Homo sapiens: one gene and its partners. The protein of the gene in region 3 interacts with the protein of the main gene of each other region in a pairwise test. Each region holds a gene or a part of one and is shown on either strand. Other genes may lie near its edges.

Region 1 (4,073 bases), on a different chromosome or scaffold from region 3:
AAGTTTCCAAAATAATTTTGCTGATCTGAGCCAAAGTTTTCCTTAATTCGTTAGTCATCACCTTAGCCTCTGCATTTAAACTGGGGGAAGGCTTTTTCATGAAATACTTAGAACTGCTAAGGAGAATAATTTTGCCTCTGGCTTTTGCTATACATTTTCTCCAGGTTGGGAGAAACTAGAGAAGTGTACTAGATTGTTCAGAGAAAGTAAGTCTACAAGTGCTGATTTTGTTAACATTAGACAATGCCCACATGTGGATCAACAGGGACTGTGGGTTGGCAGACTTTTGCTCTAAGATGGCTGCTTTCCCCAACATGTGGCAATCACCTGATACGGCATAATTGCTTTTAAACATGAAAGAGTTGTGCTGTAGAAATAGATCTCCAGCTTGTTAAAGTTTATATCTAGACTGTTTTCAGTTGGGAGTGATGTACCAAAGTGGGAGAAAGGCACCAACAAGGATGTTTTTCAAGGCAGGAAACAGGAGATATCAACCAGGACCCACCATGTTTGACAAGGAAAATATATTTATCATTTCAACAAACAAATGTGCCCATTAGAATCAGAATCTGGAGGAAAGTAGTATACATTGTGGTTTCAATAAACCACGGTAAAGAGTTGTAATAAAGCCAGTTCATGATGAAATTTTGTACACTTACTTTTTGAACAAACCTCACAGTTTCATCTAGATTGTGCCCCAGAACTTGAACTGGTTCCTTGAGTACCTCATGCATGTAACTACACTATCTGTGCCTTTGACAAACCAAACCTATAATGACTCCAGTCTTTCTGCTGCACTGCTTTAAACCAACAGGCTAACAACATAAGCCCATATTCTTAATGCACACAACTGCGTAATGACTCCATTGATGCCTGGAAAGTAACTCACTTAGCATTCAGTCAGAACAAAGAAAGAAAACGAGATTTCACTTAGCCCCGTTGAGGATGTGTTTTTACCTGTCGATAGTGTTCGAACCTTATTCTCTTCTGGCCACCCTCCAACACAACCTGCCCTTCCTGCCTGTTGCCATTTGTCCTAATGTATATCACACTTGAGAGGGTTATTTTTTTTTCTTTCAATGTGGAATTTTAGATTCCTGCTTAGAAAAACAAAAACAATGCCTGACAGCAATGGAATAGTTGAAATTCTGTCCAGCAATGAGATTTGGGCATGACAAAATCAGCATCTATAATGATACGTGTTTTAATAGCACTTCAGTATTGTTTCCACAAACACATTTTATAAATAAATTATACTTGTGTTTATTAATTTTTAAAAGCTCTTGTTCTCAAAAAAAAGCTTTACATAGAGAAGTATTTTCCTCTTTTAACAATTGCCTGTTTATGGCTTTGAAGGAGGAAAAAAACTAAAGAAGCTACAAAGCTAAAACTGTTAAGCATATATGAGAAGGGGATAATGATAGTATCTTTGTTATAGAGTTACTAAGGATTAAAAGAGATAATCCACATTAAGCATTAGAACAAGGCATGGCAGTAATTGCACAATATAATTTATAATCATCATCATTCCCATCAACCTCTGTGGGAATAAGCGCAGAATGTCCTTATTTTTCCATTAAAATTTCCTCCATAGGTTTTCTAAGTGCAGTGGTGGCATATTCAGTCTATAGGAAAGACAATTCAAATGTTTCATGACTTTGACCTGTTTCCGACATATTTTTTGTTATCGTTTTACATATTGATCTGATGAAACATCTGGCATTTATTATTTAAAGGAAGAAACTAAATAAATATTTTAAATGTCAAACACAGCCATGGACTACAGGTTAAACATCTGTGGCAAGGTTTCCACAGATAAAGCAATATTCTTTTCAGTTTGGCTCTGTCTGGCCAGTTGTACCTGACAGCTGATCTCTGGGTTTGTAGAATGCAATCTTGGGGAGGGCTGAAATAGGTGCCTTCCTAGTAACCTGCGTTGTTGTTTTGTGGTAGTTCAGATAAATGCTAGTGAGGGGAGAACTTTAAACTTTGGGTTGATGATCACCCAGGTATCTAGTTAGCGCATAAAATTTTCCAAAGCTCTTCACCTTAAAAGGATCCTGACAAGTGAATAACATTTCTGGAACTTACAGTTATCATTTAAAGAAGCATATATCTCAGTATCTTTTAAAATCTGATGTCAGGATCTAGTAAAGACTCTGGGAAATAAAAATTAAATTCATGTCAAGGAAGAAACAGATAAACATTTCAGGAAATGTGATTATTTATTTCTTATTCCTGGCCTGGTTTCTGTAGGCATGCATAGCCTTAATATGAGAGCAATGAATTTGCTCCTAAACGCAGGCTGCTGGGTACACTCAGAGGGACCCGTTAACCCTGCTGTTCTGGAAATGCCCTCTTTGTGAGACGTGCCATGATTCCCATTTTAAACAACTCAATAGATACTTGCATTTTAAATTTTAAATTAGTGCAAAACAAATAATGTTACTTCTGCACACCGGGGAAAGGGACTACACTGCCAACGCTTACCACTAATGAGGCAACTCTGACCCATTCAGGGTCGCAGATCTCCTTCCCTGAGCAACTCCAGCCTTGTACCCAACTTGTTGCCTTATCATTGAAAGGGGGGGTCATAAAAACCCAAGACCCAGGCCCTAATCCTGGTCTCTTGATACTGCTGCTAACAACCAATAGCCCAGTGAGTTAAGCAAAGACAACCAAGTTGTGCATCTTAACTTGTTTTGCAATATGCTATTTTCTGGTCCCCAGATGAATTTACCTCTCTCAGATTTTCCCAGTTGGAACAAAATCTTTAACTTCACTGAGACAATGGTCTAAAGGACTAAAATACCCATTTTACTAGCAGCCACTTAGGAGGAGAATATTATTTTATCATGAATAGTCACTTAAATAATGCTGCTTATGGTGAACACATAAAATGGGGTCTTTATATAAAATAAGAGTTCAATAAATACTTGTTGAATAAATGAATGAAACAATGAACATCTGATTTAAAAATTGATGAACTGCTAAATGTTCGTATAAATCTTTGCATACCTGAACCAGAATGAAATTTTTACAAGGTAAAATTCAATTATGAGCCCTATGAGGACACAATGATGTCATGATCTTTTCCTGTTATACATAGTTTCCCAAGAAGGCTACATTTAAATGAACACAATAAAAAATGTACCAACTGAATCAAATTATATAAATTATATGAGATTAAGTTTCATAGCTTTAATTAGCCATACAATAACTTTTTAGAAGTATATCTCCTCCAAAAAAGTCATTTTTAAAGATAAAAACAAAACAAAAATGAAAAGCTTATCTATGAAAAATGTATGCACATATCCTGGGGAAAATACAACTTTGCCTTGGGATATTGAGATTTTTCTAGAAATGCAAAGGTCTGCAGCTCCATCTCTCATCCTATTGCACCCTGACTTTTCCCTGGCATTACCTTTCGTCTTAGACTCTGCTAAATAAAGGAACATACGCTAGGATGAAAAGTCTTATTCTGAAAAAATTATTATTATTTTATCCCCATTGAAAGAAAAGAGTAAAGAAGGATTGCTTCAAGAGCCAAACCCTGATTCAGCTCTGACAGACTACCTTTCTTATCTTAAATATCCTTTCCCCAGTGATTCAGAGCATTTACTCTCTTTATAGCACTACTAATTAGGAAGTTACTAATAAGAAAAACTGGCAAATTTTACGACTGCAATTTCTACCACCCATTTGCTGTATCCCAGGGGACTGTGTGTCCACTTTAAATAGAAAAGGCTAAAGCAATTGTTAGGAAGTTTCAAAGAGAAACCTCCTCCCCAGCATACACTTAGATTAAAATCATTTTGGACCCAAATGATCTCAGTACCTGCTTCAGGGTTCCAAGTCAATGTCCAGGTGTAAGCCTGTCTTTGTGGACAGACAGCCTAGGCTGGTCTGCTAGAAGCTGGCAATAGGACAGCAATGTAAAAATTGTGAATGTGCCCACATGCCTGGAAAATTAGAGTATCCAATTTTCTATTTGTTAGGCAGAAAATATTTTCTGACCAAATTTGGTGGAATATATATGCCAACAATTTCTCTTAATAATAGAGGATAAAAAT
Region 2 (5,310 bases), on a different chromosome or scaffold from region 3:
TCAGCTTCCCAAAGTGCTCACAGGAGTAAGCTGCCACACTTGGCCTAGAGTTAATTTAAATCAGGGCCAAGCCTGGTGGCTCACACCTGTAATTCCAGCACTTTGGGAGACCGAGGCGGGTGTATCACTTGAGGTCAGGAGTTCCAGACCAGCCAGGTCAACATGGGGAAACCCCGTCTCTACTGAACATACAAAAATTAGCCGAGTATGGTGGCACATGCCAGTAATCCCAGCTACTCGGGAGGCTGAGGCAGAAGAATTCCTTGAACCCAGGAGGTGGAGGTTGCAGTGAGCTGAGATCAGGCCACTGCACTACAGCCTGGGTGACAGAGGGAGGCTCTGTCTCCAAAAATAAATAAATAAATAAATAATTTAAATCAGAAGAAATGTGCCAATAAAATGAGAAAAATATTAAGTAAATCATAGTTACCATGACACACAAATACATAAAAAAAGTGAAGGAAGGTCTGAGAGACTAAACGCTGCTTACAATGCTCGGCCCATTTTGGGTGGAAAGGCCTTGAAGATTTTTTTTTTTTTCTGATTTAGGATTGGGGTATTAAAAACAAAAAAAGTGCAAGACAGGAGGATCACTTGAGGCCAGGAGTTTGAGACCAGCCTGAGTAACACAGCACGAGAGCCCATCTCTACTAAAAAGAAAAAAAGAAAAATAATTAGCTGGGTGTGGTGGTGCAAGCCTGCAGTTCCAGCTCCTCAGGAGGCTGAGACGGGAGGATCCTTTGAGCCCAGGATAGGGAGGTTGCAGTGAGCCATGATCATGCCACTGCACTGCCGCCTGGGTGACAGAGTGAGACCCTATCTGTAAAAAATAAAAAATAAAAAAATTCTTTAAAGTAAAAAAAATTAATTAATTAATTTGAAAGGGAGACTATATTGTTCTGATAAACGGAAAACCAGAGTCCTTTTTAGAAGGCATTGTACAATTTAAAAAGAATTATTGAAAATAAAACAATACATGAGTATCTATATCCTCCCAAATTAAGTGGGTTGCTGTCCGTGGCACCAATACTATATTTCGAATGCACAGACCAGGTGCGGTGGCTCATGCCTGTAATCCCAGCACTTTGGGAGGCTGAGGCGCGTGGATCACCTGAGGTCAGGAGTTCAAGACCAGCCTGGCCAACATGGCGAAAACCCATCTCTACAAAAAATGAGCCGGGCGTGGTGGCGGGTGCCTGTAATCCCAGCTACTCAGGAGGCTGAGGCAGGAGAATCGCTTGAACCCGGGAGGCAGAGTTTGCAGTGAACGGAGATCGCACCATTGCATTCCAGCCTGGACGACAGAGCGAGACTCCATCAAAGAAAGAAAAGAAAAGAAAAGAAAGGAAAGGAAAGGAAGAAGGAAGGAAGGAAGGAAAGAAAGGGAGGGAGGCAAGAAAGGGAGAGAGGGAGGGAAGGAGGGACAGAAGGAAGGAAGGAAAGAAAGAAAACAAAATCAAATGTGCAGCCCTGGAGGATAATCTCTGAGTCCTTGGGCTGGTCATGGTTTGGGCCGAGCCAACCCTGCCAACCCCCTCTCCCACCATTTGCCCTCTTCACACATCCTCAGCTACAGCCATGACCGACTCCTCATGCGTTTCCATCCAAGCAGCATCTTTTTCACCTCCCAGCTTTTGCCTCTGCCGTCGTCTCCACTCAGAATGCCAAAGGCAAGTGGAAATGTCATTTTCCCCTGAAGCTGACCCCTCTAGGAAGTAAACACTTGGAACTTTTTTCTTTTTCCTGCAGCCTTGGTGCAAGTGATCCTCCTACCTCAGCCTCCCCATTAGCTGCAGCTACAGACATGTGTCACCATACCCGACTCATAAAAAAGAAATGTTCTGGGCTGGCACGGTGGCTCACGCCTGTAATTTCAGCACTTTGGGAGGCCAAGGTGGGCGGATCCCTTAAGGTCAGGAGTTCGAAACCAGCCTGGCCAATATGGTGAAACACCCTCTCTACCAAAAAAAAAAAAAAAAAAAAAAGAAAGAAAGAAAGAAAAAAATACATATATATATATATATATATATATATATATATATATATATATATAATTAGCTGGGTGTGGTGATGCACGCCTGTAATCCCAGCTACCCAGGAGGCTGAGGCAGGAGAATCACTTGAACCTGAGAGATGGAGGTTGCAGTGAGCCGAGATTGTGCCATTACACTCCAGCCTGGCCACAGAGTGAGACTCTGTCTGAAAAAAAAAATCTACTAATTTTTGTATTTTTAAAATTTAATTTTTTTCTTTTTGAGGCAGAGTCTTGCTCTGTCGCCCAGGCTGGAGTGCAGTGGCATGATCTCAGCTCACTGCAACTTCTACCTCCCGGGTTCAAGAGATTCTCCTGCCTCAGCTTCCCGAGTAGCTGGGATTACAGGTGCACTCCACCACACCTGGCAAATGTTTGTATTTTTGGTACAGATGGGGTTTCACCATGTTGGCCAGGCTAGTCTCGAACTCCTGACCTCAAGTGATCTGCCTCCCTCAGGCTCCCAAAGTGCTGGGATTACAGGCATGAGCCACCGCAGCCGGCCTAATTTTTGCATTTTTTGGTAACAGACAGGTTTTCGCCATGTTACCCAGGCTATATCTCGATCTCCTGGGTTCAAGCGATCCACCCGCCTCAGCCTCCCAAAGTGCTGGGATTACAGGCATAAGCCACCACACCCGGCCTCATTTTTAAAAACTTTTTGTAGAGATGGGGGTCTCACTATGTTGCCCAGGCTGATCTCAAACCCCTGGGTGCAAGCAATCCTCCCACCTCGGCCTCCCAAAGTGCTGGGAGGCCCAGCAACATTTGGGATCTTTAATTTCAGATGTTCCAACTGTGACTTCTCCCTGGCGCCTTGATGGGAGCATCTGAAACACCCTTCACCATCTAGATGCACAAGGAAGCAGAGATGCTAATTGGTCCCCAGCTGGATGAGAAGCGCTGGGGGTGGAGGTTGGGAGATGGGAGTGCTGCCCCTCCCTTCCTCCCCCAAGCCCTGTCTTTCCTTCTCCTCCTGCCACTGGGTGAGTCCTCCCCTGTTAGCCCTTGCCACTTCCTCTTTCTGAATCTCAGTTGTCCCAGCTGTAACTTTATAGTAGGAGGAGGGTTGTGAATGAGCTCGTTCCTGTTGTTCTTTCCAATGCTGACCTTTGCCCAGAGTTGACAAAAGAGCTAAGAGTCTGAGTTTGGGGAATGAAGGGCTCAGTACTGGAGGTGACAGGTAAACGCACCCATGGAATGGGCAGTTAGGGGACACTGGGCACAGGGAAGGACAGAAAGAGGGTGTGCTCACCAATGGCTGTTGGAAAGACAGCTGGTAAAAGAGATGAAATCAAATGACCTAGGGACTATCCAAACATAAGAAGAAGGCCGGGCTCGGTGACTCACACCTGCAATCCCAGTACTTTGGGAGGCCAAGGCGGAAAGATCACCTGAGATCAGGAGTTTGAGACCAGCCTGGCCAACATGGTGAAACCCGCGTCCCTACTAAAAATACAAAAATTAACCAGGCTTGGCAGCACGCACCTGTAATCCCAGCTACTCAGGAGGCTGAGGCAGGAGAATCACTTGAACCTGGGAAGTGGAGGTTGCAGTGAGCCAAGATCACGCCACTGCACTCCAGCCTGGGTGACAGAGCGAGACTCTGTCTCAAAAAGAAATAAAGATAAATAAATAAATAAGAATAAGTTGAATCAGCCAGGCACGGTGGCTGTCGCCTGTAATCCCAGCACTTTGGGAGGCTGAGGAGGGCGGATCATGAGGTCAGGAGTTCAGGACCAGCCCGGCCAACATGGTGAAACCCCGTCTCTACTAAAAATACAAAAAATAGCTGGGCATGGTGGCGGGCGCCTGTAATCCCAGCTACTCAGGAGGCTGAGGCAGGAGAATTGTTTGAACCCAGGAGGTGGAGGTTGCAGTGAGCTGAGATTGCGCCATTGCACTCCAGCCTGAGTGACAGGGCGAGACTCTGTCTCAAAAAAAAGAAGTGGAGTCTCAGTTTCTTCATCAGTAAAATGCGTACACAAGTACAGGCTGCAGGGGGTGGTTATAAGGAAAGTGTCAGAACTGTCATACTCGGACCACAAGTGAGGAATTATTTTCCGGCTTTCCATTTTGCCTGGTAGGCAAATTTCACTTCCCTGTTTCCTCTCCCACCTCCACTCTCAAGCATCGTGCTCAGAACTGCATGATGAAGAAGAGTGTGGCTGTCTGGGTAGTCTCTCAGCTCTACCCTTGATTTGCTACGTGGCCCTGAGTAAGTTGTCTAATCTCACTAACCCTGAAGTTGCCCTGTCTGTAAAATCCTGCCTAACTTATAAATTATCCTAATGATTAACTGAGTTCGCCTAAAGAAACCAATGAAGGCCGGGTGCAGTGGCTCACGCCTGTAATCCCAGCACTCTGGGAGGCTGAGGCGGATGGATCACCTGAGGTCGGGAGTTTGAGACCAGCCTGACCAACATGCAGAAACCCCATCTCTACTAAAAATACAAAATTAGCCAGGCATGGTGGTATGCCTGTAATCCCAGCTACTTGGGAGGTTGAGGCAGGAGAATCACTTGAACCCAGGAGGGGGAGGTTGCGGTGAGCAAAGATGGCACCATTGCACTCTAGCCTGGGCAACAAGAGCGAAATTCCGTCTCAAGAAAAACAAAAAAGAAAAAAAGAAAGCAATGAGGACATACATGATGGCTGAAGCAGAAAGACTCAAGGCCAGGCAAGGTGGCTCACACCTGTAATTCTAGCACTTTGGGAGGCTGAGACGGGAGGATCACTTGAGGCCAAGAGTTCGAGACCAGCCTGGGCAACAAAGTGAGACCCCTGTCTCTACAAAAAATTAAAAAATTAGGCCAGGAGCGGTGGCTCATGCCTGTAATCCTAGCACTTTGGGAGGCTGAGGCAGGCGGATCACTTGAGGTTAAGGGTTCAAGACTAGCCTGGCCAACATGGTGAGACCCCATTTCTACCTAAAAAATATAAAAATTAGCTGGGTGTGGCGGTGTGCGCCTGCAGTCCCAATTACTCGGGAGGCTGAGGTGGGAGAATCACTTGAACCCAGGAGGCAGAGGCTGCAGTGAGATGAGATCATGCCACTGTGCTCCAGCCTGAATGGAGTAAGACTCTGTCTCAAAAAAAAAAAAAAAAAATAGCTGGGCAGGGTGGCAGGAGCTTGTCCCAGCTATTCTGGAGGCTGAGGCGGGAGGATGGATTGAACTCCGGTATTGGAGGGTGCAGTGAGCTATGATCATGTCACTGCACTCCAGGCTGGGTGACAGACTGAGACACTGTCTTAAAAAGAAGAAGAAGAAGAAGAA
Region 3 (4,975 bases):
GGAGCCCAGGCCACCCTGGGGCTGCCCCATGCTGGGTGGGCAAAGATGGGGCCATTGTCAGGGTCTGGGTGCATTGAGAACCGGAAATGGAGTCAGACGGGTTTGGTGACTCAGAATTGATTTTTTTTTTCCCAAGGGACAGGGAGGGGGCGTAGAGGAGGGAGGGGGGAGGAGAGAGGTAGGGGGATGGGGAAAAAGCTGCTTTGCACAGCTAAGATGTTTTTGTCATTAACCCAGAAACTGAGGTACAAGGGCAACCCCTGCCCAAAGGCCCTCTAAGAAGGGGAGGGACTTGCATAGCTGACCAAGGAGACTTTGAAGATGCTCAAGGACCAAAGACAGCAGTTTCTCTGCTCTGTGACCATCCTATCAGTGCAGGACCTGAGAAGCTGGGTGTAACTTTGACAATGCTATGGTAACCCAGGTGGAGCAAAATTGAGTTCATGGGGGTGGGGACCTGGGAGAGTATCTATTTGGGATGCCACATAGTAGCAGAAAGGACCCATCGAGAAATCTCAAGAAGAGACTCAGGGACTTATAGAAACATTGGTTAAGGACGGTTTCCCCTTTAAATGGGGAAGCAGGCCCAGAAAAGAGATGATACTTACCCACAATCACCCAACTAGTTAGCAGTGGAACCCTAAACTGCACCTTGAAGTGAAGGGTCCCATAAGAAAGGTGGATGGATTCTTCTTAGTGGGGCCATCTTAGTCCAGATGCAGCAGGTGAAGGAAGATGGGCATTTGAGAATGGACCCACTGAAAGGTTCCCCAAGTGGTCCTAGCACCAGGAGCTTGTCACGGAGTGTGGGCTTCATACTGTTGAGCTGCAGGCCCTGCTTGGGGCTTCTGGAAAGGGGACAACCTCTGGGTTGTCTTCTGGGAAGAACAGTCTCTGGTAAGGAGAGGCTGGAGACTCTCTAAAACTGGCCCTGACCCTTCTGAGCTGTGTTTCTCCTCTAGGGGCTGAGCTGGAGGAGAGTAGCAAAAACACGAAGAAGTTGGATGCCATGACCCTCATTAAAGAAGGTGGGAGTCGACACACATTAGGGCTGGGACCCAGGGCAGACAGGACCACGCTCCACTTTTCCACCACACTACAGAAGGAGGTGGCTGCTTGAAGCAGCTGTCTGGGGACCCTCATTTTGATAGGTCCGAGTCGGCCGGTTGTTCTGGCTCCTGTGACCTGTCGTTGGAGATCATAATCATAGGTGATTGCCCACTCACCTGAAAGCGTATACCCTTTGGGACTGCTTAGATCGAACTCTGGAAGCTGGAAGCATTCAGCATGGAGCTTGTTATATCAGCGGGGAGGTGAAGTGCCTTCTGAGTGTGGGGTGGGAGTGCTCTCCGATCTTCCAGAGAAACCCTGGGATCTTCAGCCCCAGTGACATGGGCTTCTGTCATTGCAGACATGTCCATCTTCGGGCACTGCCCTGCCCATGATGACTTCTACTTGGTTGTGTGTAACCACTGCAGCCAAGTGGTGAAGCCTCAAGCTTTCCAGAAGCACTGCGGTGAGGGGAGCCCTAGGGAGGAGATAAAGGGACAGGGGAAGGTGGAGCATGGAACTCTGAGGACAGGGTCAGTTGGGAGGTCTCGTAGGGTAATGGAGGGTGGTGTTGAGGATAGGAAGGTTGTGGGGGTGGCTTCAGAGCATTGTGGGGAGTCGGGTTATTGTTTGAACAAAATTCTAGCATCCAGTGGAATTACGGGAGGAGTTAAGACATTCAGGAAGCTGGGTCTTGAATTTTGAGTCCTAAAGGCTCAGATTCAAATGGGAAGGAGGCATGTTTACAATCTAATTTATGGAAACTCAGATTCTCTCATGTGAGTCTATGGACATGGTTAGGTTGGGGAAGGAAGTGGTGATACCACTCACCTTGATTATTCTTTCCACCTCCTGGTGACAGAAAGAAGACATGGGCCCCTCAGCAAGCTTTATGGCCGGGCCCCACCCCCACCTCCAGCCCCTGCCAGCTCTCAGAAATGCCATGTAGTGAATGGGCAGGGCCCAGCTTGTAGGGCCCCAGGTTCCACGAAAACCTCCTCCAGGGAGAAGGGCCAGGGGTCCCGGAGCCGTGGCCACCAGCCTCCTGAGAAGACCCAGAAGGACAACCTCTGGTAAGGAGAGGCTGGAAACTTTCTAAGACTGGCCCTGACCCTGACCCATGGATGGGCTGACATCAATACAGACAGCCCTGGGTCAAGGCATACTCCTCACAGCAGGAGGCAGCCGTCCTGTCTGCAGCTTCCTTCCATATATTCCAGGGAAGATGGGGTCTCCTCTTCCCGTGTTTCACACCCCTGCTGGAGCCCACCCAAATTCCAGGGCTGGGAAAGAGATGGCTCTGGGCTAGAGTCCAGGCCCCAGGCCTCGCCTCCCCTCCCCTCCCTCAGCCAACCCCCTCTCTCTGTGTGTAGCCTTTTCGTGCCTGTGGTGAATCTGGAGAAGATGTCCAGTCTCCCGAAGCCTGATGGACATGGAATCAGGGTGGCCCCACCCTCTGCTTTTCTCAGCCAGCCAGGGGGCCTCACCAAGGACTCCCCTGGAAAACCTCCCATGGCTCCCCCTTCTAAAGAACCTCCTGGCAGAGAGAACATCGAGATCATCCCCAGTGAGGGGTCCAGTCACTGGGCTGAAGGCAGCCCTCCTGAAAAGGAGCCCAGTGGGACCAGGCTGCCCCCTAAAACCCACCGGAAGATGGCTCGTGAGTAGTTGTGGTCTTGGGGGTCCAGAATGTAGAGTGGGGACTCCTTTGGGCTGCTTTGTCCTTGGGCTGGATGAGGAGGAGGTCAGGTTTATGGGCCTGGCCATCACAGGTTGTAGGGTATAGGAGCCCCGTCACCTCTTGACCTGCTTGCTTCCTGGGAAGCTTCTCTCCATCCTGTGTCTCCTGATCAAGGCTGAGGGAGCCCATGCCCAGGAGGTGAAGTTCTTTCTCACTCTTTTCTCACCTAGATCCAGGGCGCCAGCCAGACACATCTCACAGCTGGCTTCTCTGGCCTCCCAGATGCCCATGGCTGCTTTTGTTTCTTGATGTGTGTTGCCCTGCTTTGGGCTTGAAGTCCCAAAAGGCGCACCTGAAATTGGGATAGGGATGGTTCTCACACCCAGCAAGGAGATGTTGATGCCCAGAAGTTTATCTGGAAGGTACAGCCCCAGGCTGAGGGCTGGAGTCTCTTCTGCCTTAGTACCAGTTCTCAGGCCCTTGGCAGGAAGCGGCCAAATCCTCCTGTAAACTCCTGGAAATGGTCTTGAGGTTCATTGGAAGTGCTTTCCCCACAGGGAAGGAGTGCGACCTCAACAGGCAGTGTGGGGTAATAAATCCAGAGACCAAAAAGATCTGTACCCGCCTGTTGACCTGCAAGGTAACCCCCTTCCCACTGCACGGTGAGGGAGGACAGCACAGGGCTTGCCCACTCCTTCCCTGGGCAAAGAGAGGAATGTCGATGTTACTGAAGGTCCAGCTTAAGGGAGGGCAGTTAGGCCCACCCAAGGGAAGGGGAGATGGGTATGCCCCTCCTGGGCAGAAGGTGGGAACAGTGGGAAGGAGGGAGTTTCCAGATTCCCCCATCCCAAAGGAGGGTTTTGGCCCCATGGGGGAATGAAACAAAGACACATGAACACAGCTGCAAATATGCCCACCTCTCTCCCTGCCCCCCAACTTGCCCGGGCCAAAGCACCCTGCCGTCCCTCACCCCTTCTCAGTTCATACCTACTCCCCAGCTCTCCACTCTGCTGTATTCTAGATCCACTCAGTACACCAGCGCCGGGAAGTCCAGGGCCGGGCCAAGGACTTTGACGTGCTGGTGGCAGAGCTGAAGGCCAACTCCCGCAAAGGGGAGTCTCCCAAGGAGAAGAGCCCAGGGCGCAAGGAGCAAGTTCTCGAGCGCCCCTCCCAGGAGCTCCCCTCCTCAGTCCAGGTTGTAGCAGCGGTGGCTGCTCCCAGCAGCACCTTCTCTGTTCGTGCCAAGCAGACCTACCCATACTGTGCACTGCCCAGGTACGTCTAGAATCCAACCCCTACCTCACCTGGGGGTACTTGGCCCCTAAGCCATCAGGGGCCCCTGGAAACAGGCTCAGGGAGTGTCCTGGAAGAGGCACTCCCTCAGCCCTGAGTGTGGGGGTATTCCTGGGGCTCCTGACAGTGGTGTGGAAGCAGGAGACTCCCCTGTTTCCAACCAGGCATACCACAGCACCCCAGCCTCTCGGCAGTGTGCCAGATCCAACACTCAGGATATGAACATTTTCCCAGCTGCCTCCAACAGACCGAAACTTGTCACTGGGGAGCTGAAAGGGTCACACTCCTGGGCAAGGCAGCCCTATGTGTATTCACTCACTGGCCCCTTCGCGTGCAGAGGCTATGCCGGACCCCAGGGAGAGCCTGACTTGCTGAAGGAGACACACATGCATCTCTGCCTGTCACACAAGGGGCAGACACGAAACACAGGCTCAGCTCACAGACAGGCTCACAGGAATATGTGATGCAAGAAGGGGGTTGAGCGAGTTGACTGGGCTGACCAGAGCTGGGTACAGTTTTAACTGTGAAGATTTTCTGGAGGAGGCGGATCTGCAGCAGATTATCCCCTGAGGAGGAAGGGGCTGGGAGGTGAAGGGGCTGGGGAGAGAATCCCTTGGGAGCAGTCTCTCTGTCTCTTACTCTGTGAGCTGTGTCGTTCCCTCCTGTCCTTCCCTTCCCTCTGTCCTCTTCTGATTGCCCTGCAGGGTGTCTGCCCTGGTGCCCTGCTCTTTGAGCTCGGCAGGTTCAAGGATGCCCCTACTCTGACCCCACAACAGTCACATTCCCCTGGCATCCCTTTTGGCCCTTCCAGGTCCCGGGCCTCCTCCGAGAGTGAATTGGATGATGAAGGCCCCTGTGGTGGTGATGGGGACCCAGGCCTGTTCCCCTTCCCCATGCCCCGGGGTGGGACCCAGGCCTCCAGCGAAGAGAGTGAGGAGGAGGGGACATCTG
Region 4 (5,153 bases), on a different chromosome or scaffold from region 3:
GGGCCACTGAAGCACAGGTGGAGGCTGCCTGGCCACGATGGCAAGCTCGCCCTGGGGCCTGCCCTGAGCAGCCCCGCATCAGCCCGGCTCCTCCCTCGAGGCCTCCTACCCGCGGGGCATCTGTGTTCCCAGGCTGGGCTGGGGAGGAAGGGCAGTGAGGAGGAGCTTGAGAAAGTCTGGGAAGAAACCGTGGAGGGAGGAAGAAGGCAGGGTTCAGGGCCAGGGACCAGAGGTGGCGTGCGCTTCTTGGGAGAGACCACTGACCTGTTTCAGGTAAACTTGTGCCCCCTACACCTTGTCGCCAACAGGCTCTTTTTAGAGACAGGCAAAGGCTCCACACCTGGGACCAGAGGGCAGGTTGCAGCTGCAGGGAAAGCTGGAGAGAACTGGGGAAGCCTCTCCCCACTCGCCACTCTCAGACTCAGAATCAATCAATCACGAGAACCTTCCCCGCCCATCACCTCCCGGCCAGTCCAGTGTGGACCAAGAGGGGCCTCCAAAGTGACCCAGGGCCTGCCCGGCCTCAATAAAAGAGCAAATAAGGAAGCGGCTAGGCTCTGACATCATTTCCGGGGGGGCTCATCAAAGTGTGTGCTCCAGCCCCCAGAGATGGAGCTATGTGGACACCTGTTCCACCCCACACCTTCCTCTCCAGCCAACAACAGGGCCTGCTCCCCAGGACCAGGGCCTGCCAAGAAACCCCGTCTTGTTTCCCGGCTGGGAAGCTTCATCTGGCGACCCCGCTGGTCACCTGACTGTCCCTTCCATGACCCAGTGAATTCACCCCTTTCCCAAGAGCTCACGGAGGGCTGGGCTTCTACGTCCGAGCTGGGGCAGTGACACAGCGCATTAGCTAAAATCGAGTCCTGGGGAGCCCCCACTCCCATCCTTTTCCCCAGTAAGACCTGCGTGTGGAGCGCAAGACACCATCTAGAATTTTGGTTTTAATTTGCCAGTCTCGTTCTGTGCCCTGTTTGCCACAAGGCCCCTGGGGCCAGGACCAGGTTTAACTTGGTCCCAGTGGTGACAGTATCAGCCCTTTGAGAAAACAGAGGCGCTGGAAGCCAGTGGCGAGGAACACAGGATTCCAGCGGGGACCCCCCGCCGGGGCAGAAGTTTCCAATTACCCTAATTGGCTACTGGCAAGCTGTCTGTGGCTCGAATCCTTCTTCTAGAGGGGAGCTGGGTTTGATCTCCCACTAATCCGGGGGTCCTCAACAGTGCTGACTGTGTGATCACATCACGGGCATTTTCATTGGCCAAAGAGACTTCAAAGCAACCGACTTTTGAAAAATAAAACACAATAAACAAAAGAGTGCAAGTGGAACTGCAAACTCCATCTCCCCCGCTGCGCCTGACCCCCTAGGCCTGAGGCTGTGGGGGCTGCAGTGAGGAGGACTTGGAGGTGGGAGGTGGAGCGTCAGCTCTGCCATGGCTGACAAAGGCCGTCAATTACGGGCGGCTGGTGGGGACCGTGCCTGCCTTTGTCCTCCCGGACATCTGCTACACGTCGCCTGCTGCCAGTTGGCGACTGCGGCTGACAGCATGCGGGAACAATGCGAGCCCGTCTCCGACCCACTTTTTCAGCCTTCCGAGGTCCTTTCTGACCCAAGCGGTGCCCCGGCGTGCGAGGCTGCCAAGGTCTCCGAGGAGTCACAGCGATGAGATCCCTCACACAAAGCTCCGTGGGGGATGGGTCTGATGGGGAGGGGAGAGGCGGGAGTGAGGAAGGGGAGGGCCAGGGCCACCAGGAAAAAGAAACATGCTTCCCTTATTGGTGTGAGCTTGCATGCTCGGGCTGGGGGGCTTGTGCGGGGGCACTCCTCTCAGGGATTTGCTCCCTTCCCCGTCTGGCTCCAGACTGGCCACCGACTCTGCCTGCCCTCCTCCCCATTTCTTTCTCCCGCCAGGGCCACCCCTGTCCTCCCGCCTGTCCATCTGGCCCTGTGCACCAGGGCCCCAGCTGCCCGTGGGCCGCCTGCCAGGCCCCCTGGCTGTCAGGCTGTCAGTTTCTGGATGGTTCTGTTGTAGTACTGCGTGATGGGGGGCGTCAGAGGGTTCCAGCTGTTAGCGTGGAGCTCGATGACCTCTAGGAGCAGCGACCGGGTCAGCATGGACTCCGAGGGGCACAGCATCTTGTCCCGTGCGCTGGCCAGGAGCTCTGTCATCATCTCAGGCAGCTGTTCCTCCAGCAGCCGGCCTGTACTCTGCAGCTGCAGACAGAGATGTGGGGTTAGGATGGCCTCGGGTCCCACAGTGGCCCACTGGCCACCCTGATTAGGTGGGCAGGGATAGGAAATAGCTGGGTTGTCTTAAGGACACACAGGCCCAGACCCCTGTGCCACAGCTGGAATGAGGACAGGGAGAGTGGAAGGTGGAGTAGCCAAGAGTGAGAGCTCACATTTACCAACCAATCTGCCAGCAGGATCCAGAGGGATCCGAATATTGCCTACTGCCCAGGGCTGAAAGAGCTGTCACCAGGAACATGCCTCTTGTCCCTTTTACCCAAGAGCCTCCCTCTTCCAGGAAGCCTTCCCTGACTACATCCGCACCCTCAAATGGCTCCATGATCTGTGCCCCTTGGTGATCAGGGGGCCCTGTGGTCATTTTCACTTGCTGGGGCGTCTCTCTGGCAATGAGCTTAGTCATTATTACATGTGTCCATTGGAACTTGAGAGCAGGGGTGATGCCTCCTGTTTCTCTCGCTCTCCTTTTCTCCTGATCCTGATCCCATCTCCCAGCCCCCAGAAGTGACCTCTGCTCATGCTTGTGACAGGAAGTGGGGGAGAGAAATACAAACTGGGGAAGAAGGCCAGCCAGAGGCCGTCAGGAGAGCCCTAGATAATCTTGAAAAGCCCACTGGGAAGGAGCCCCTATTCCTGGACCAGCACACCCCTGGCCAGTGCCCCCCAGGCCCTCTCTATAGAATCTCAGTCCCCGTCTCGGTCCCCAGCCTTGTCCCATTCATTTTTCTAGTCTCTGCCTTCTTCACAAAGCCTCCCTTGAACCCCTGAGCCCTTCCTGACCTCTCTCCCCTGACTCTTCAGGGATGTCTCTGTACTTACACTTATTCTATCTACTCTCTGAGAGCTATTCCTAACCAGACTGGAAGCTGCCTGAGGGCAAGGACCAGGCTTTCTCCTTCTCCCTAATTCCCCCCTAATCCCAAGCCCCCTGTAGGGTGCCCAGCTGGAGGCCAACAAACAAACTGAGTCCCACAGACCCAAGACTGCCATCTGGCTCCCAGTGCTTCTGGCCTCTGAGCTCCTCAGTGAGGCCTTTGCAGCCAGGCGGAAGCCACCTGAGTATGCTTATGACAGCTGCCAGGCCCAGGTCCTCGTCTGGAAGCCCCTCTCCTGCCTGCATCCCACTCTGAGTGACTCTGGACCATCTGCAGAGGGCAGAGATCTGCCCAGGGACTGGGCCAAAGCCAGGCGCTAAAGGGAGAGCCCAGAGGAAGAGTCTCCATTAGCAGGGGCCACAGCTTAGGGACAGGAGTGGCACCTCCCAAGAGGTGTGCTTTCGGGTGGGCTGTGCCAGCACTGCATTGCCAAGCATTAGCAAAGCAAAGGGAAATATTTGAGGGCAGAGGTAATCAGGAACTTCTTAAGTCATTTGTGTGGCATGCCTGAGCTGGGGCGCAGGGGGTCTTTGGGGGACAGGGAAGTAGGCAATGCCACTGGGAATCACTTCTCTCTCCCTTCAGTCAGGGGTGAGCTGCTCTCACCATCAGTGTTCACTCTGGCTTGGGGTGGATAATTCTGGATGCAGAAGTCCATGCCCACTCCTGAAGCCATCCACCTACCTTCCCCTGGACTTGTAAATGCCTCCAACAACCCTCGTGCCCCTAGAACTGTTAAGGCATGAGAGATGCACCGGCTTTGAGGTTGGGGATGTCGAAGCCCCAAAGCTTACCTCCATAGAGCAGCAAAGGACAGCATCTTCCTTCACATCCTGAGATTGCAAGAGCTGTGGAAGAGAGGGGCAGAGAGCACCACTGAAGGAGACATGCCGGCTACTGGGCCCTGTAGCTCCCTGCAGCCCCCGCCGACCTGCAGCCCCAGCCCTGATGCGGCCTGTAACAAACATCTCCAAGGTTCAGGCTAGAGTGAGAGCCCACAAAAGTCAGAGAGCAGAAAGTCAGTTGCGCCGGGTGGCCGTGATTTCTCCGACAGGGTTAGAGCAGCTGGAGGTCAGTGTGATGGTGCGATGTGGAGCCCCTGGGCCAGGTCTGAACACCGTGATTCAAGAGGCCACTGAAGAGAAAGCCTGCAGCAGTGAGTGCGCTGGGATCATCCAGTGTTAACAACTGGTCAGCAGAAGTCCTCAGGGAAATGAAATTAGCTTAGAGACGTATAATTGGTAACTCCTCTATGGGTGAGGAGGTTCAGCCATTGACTCAGGCACCCCTGGGCCCTGGCCACAGGAGGAAGTCCAGGAGTCAAAGCCCTCTTCTCCACTGGCCCAGTGCTGTAGACTTTCAAACCCACAAACCTGTGGACTTACTCAGGGGCTGGAACTGTTTCCTAACTAGGGCCATGGCTGGGCTGCTCAGCGCTCAGTCCTGCCGTGCTACAGTCCATGCTTCCCCCGACTTGCCTGGCTCATTCTCTCAATCTCTCTGTCTCTTTTAAATTGAGATACCATTCACATAACACAAAATCCACCATTTTAAAGTATATAATGCAGTGCTTTTTAGGATATCCCCAGAATTGTGCAACCATCACCACTATTTAAGTTCTGAACATTTTCATCACTCCCCATACAAACCCATACCCACTAGCAGCCATTCCCTGTTCCTCCTCACTCCAGCCTCTGGCAACTCCCCCCGATTCTATGTCTCTATGGAGTTGCCCGTGCTGGACATTTTATAGAAATAGAATCACACAATATGTGGCCTTTTGTGATTGACTTCTTTCACTTAATGTTTTCAGGGTTCATTCATGTTGTAGCATATACCAGTATCTCATTCCTTTCTGTGGCTGACTAATATTCCATTGTAAGGATATGTCACATTTTGTTTATCCATTCATCTGTTAATGGACTTTTGCGTTGTTTCCACCTTTTAGCTATTAGGAATAGTGCTGCTATGAACCTTCGTGTACCAGGCTTTTCCTGGATGCATGTTTTCAATTCTCCTGGATATTACATAG

The links. Proteins that work in one complex are often made in the same cells at the same time.
Region 1: the proteins of ATXN7L2 (region 3) and PRDM6 interact in a two-hybrid assay, tested with the Homo sapiens proteins (one large-scale study listed by BioGRID).
Region 2: the proteins of ATXN7L2 (region 3) and SSC4D interact in a two-hybrid assay, tested with the Homo sapiens proteins (one large-scale study listed by BioGRID).
Region 4: the proteins of ATXN7L2 (region 3) and CTIF interact in a two-hybrid assay, tested with the Homo sapiens proteins (one large-scale study listed by BioGRID).

What each region holds. Positions count from the first base shown.
Region 1 is NC_000005.10:123,189,614-123,193,686, reverse strand, and holds part of PRDM6 (putative histone-lysine N-methyltransferase PRDM6), read right to left. Parts: 3' UTR 1-4,073. UniProt on the Homo sapiens protein: Putative histone methyltransferase that acts as a transcriptional repressor of smooth muscle gene expression.
Region 2 is NC_000007.14:76,402,015-76,407,324, reverse strand, and holds part of SSC4D (scavenger receptor cysteine-rich domain-containing group B protein precursor), read left to right. Parts: intron 1-2,819; 5' UTR 2,820-2,885; coding exon 2,886-3,018; intron 3,019-4,163; coding exon of another isoform or gene 4,164-4,250; intron 4,251-5,310.
Region 3 is NC_000001.11:109,485,095-109,490,069, forward strand, and holds part of ATXN7L2 (ataxin-7-like protein 2), read left to right. Parts: intron 1-237; exon of another isoform or gene 238-962; coding exon 963-1,028; intron 1,029-1,411; coding exon 1,412-1,516; intron 1,517-1,912; coding exon 1,913-2,123; intron 2,124-2,423; coding exon 2,424-2,710; intron 2,711-3,288; coding exon 3,289-3,371; intron 3,372-3,752; coding exon 3,753-4,006; intron 4,007-4,188; coding exon of another isoform or gene 4,189-4,246; exon of another isoform or gene 4,247-4,835; coding exon 4,836-4,975.
Region 4 is NC_000018.10:48,856,404-48,861,556, reverse strand, and holds part of CTIF (CBP80/20-dependent translation initiation factor), read right to left. Parts: intron 3,970-5,153; coding exon 3,916-3,969; intron 2,214-3,915; coding exon 1,998-2,213; 3' UTR 1-1,997. UniProt on the Homo sapiens protein: Specifically required for the pioneer round of mRNA translation mediated by the cap-binding complex (CBC), that takes place during or right after mRNA export via the nuclear pore complex (NPC).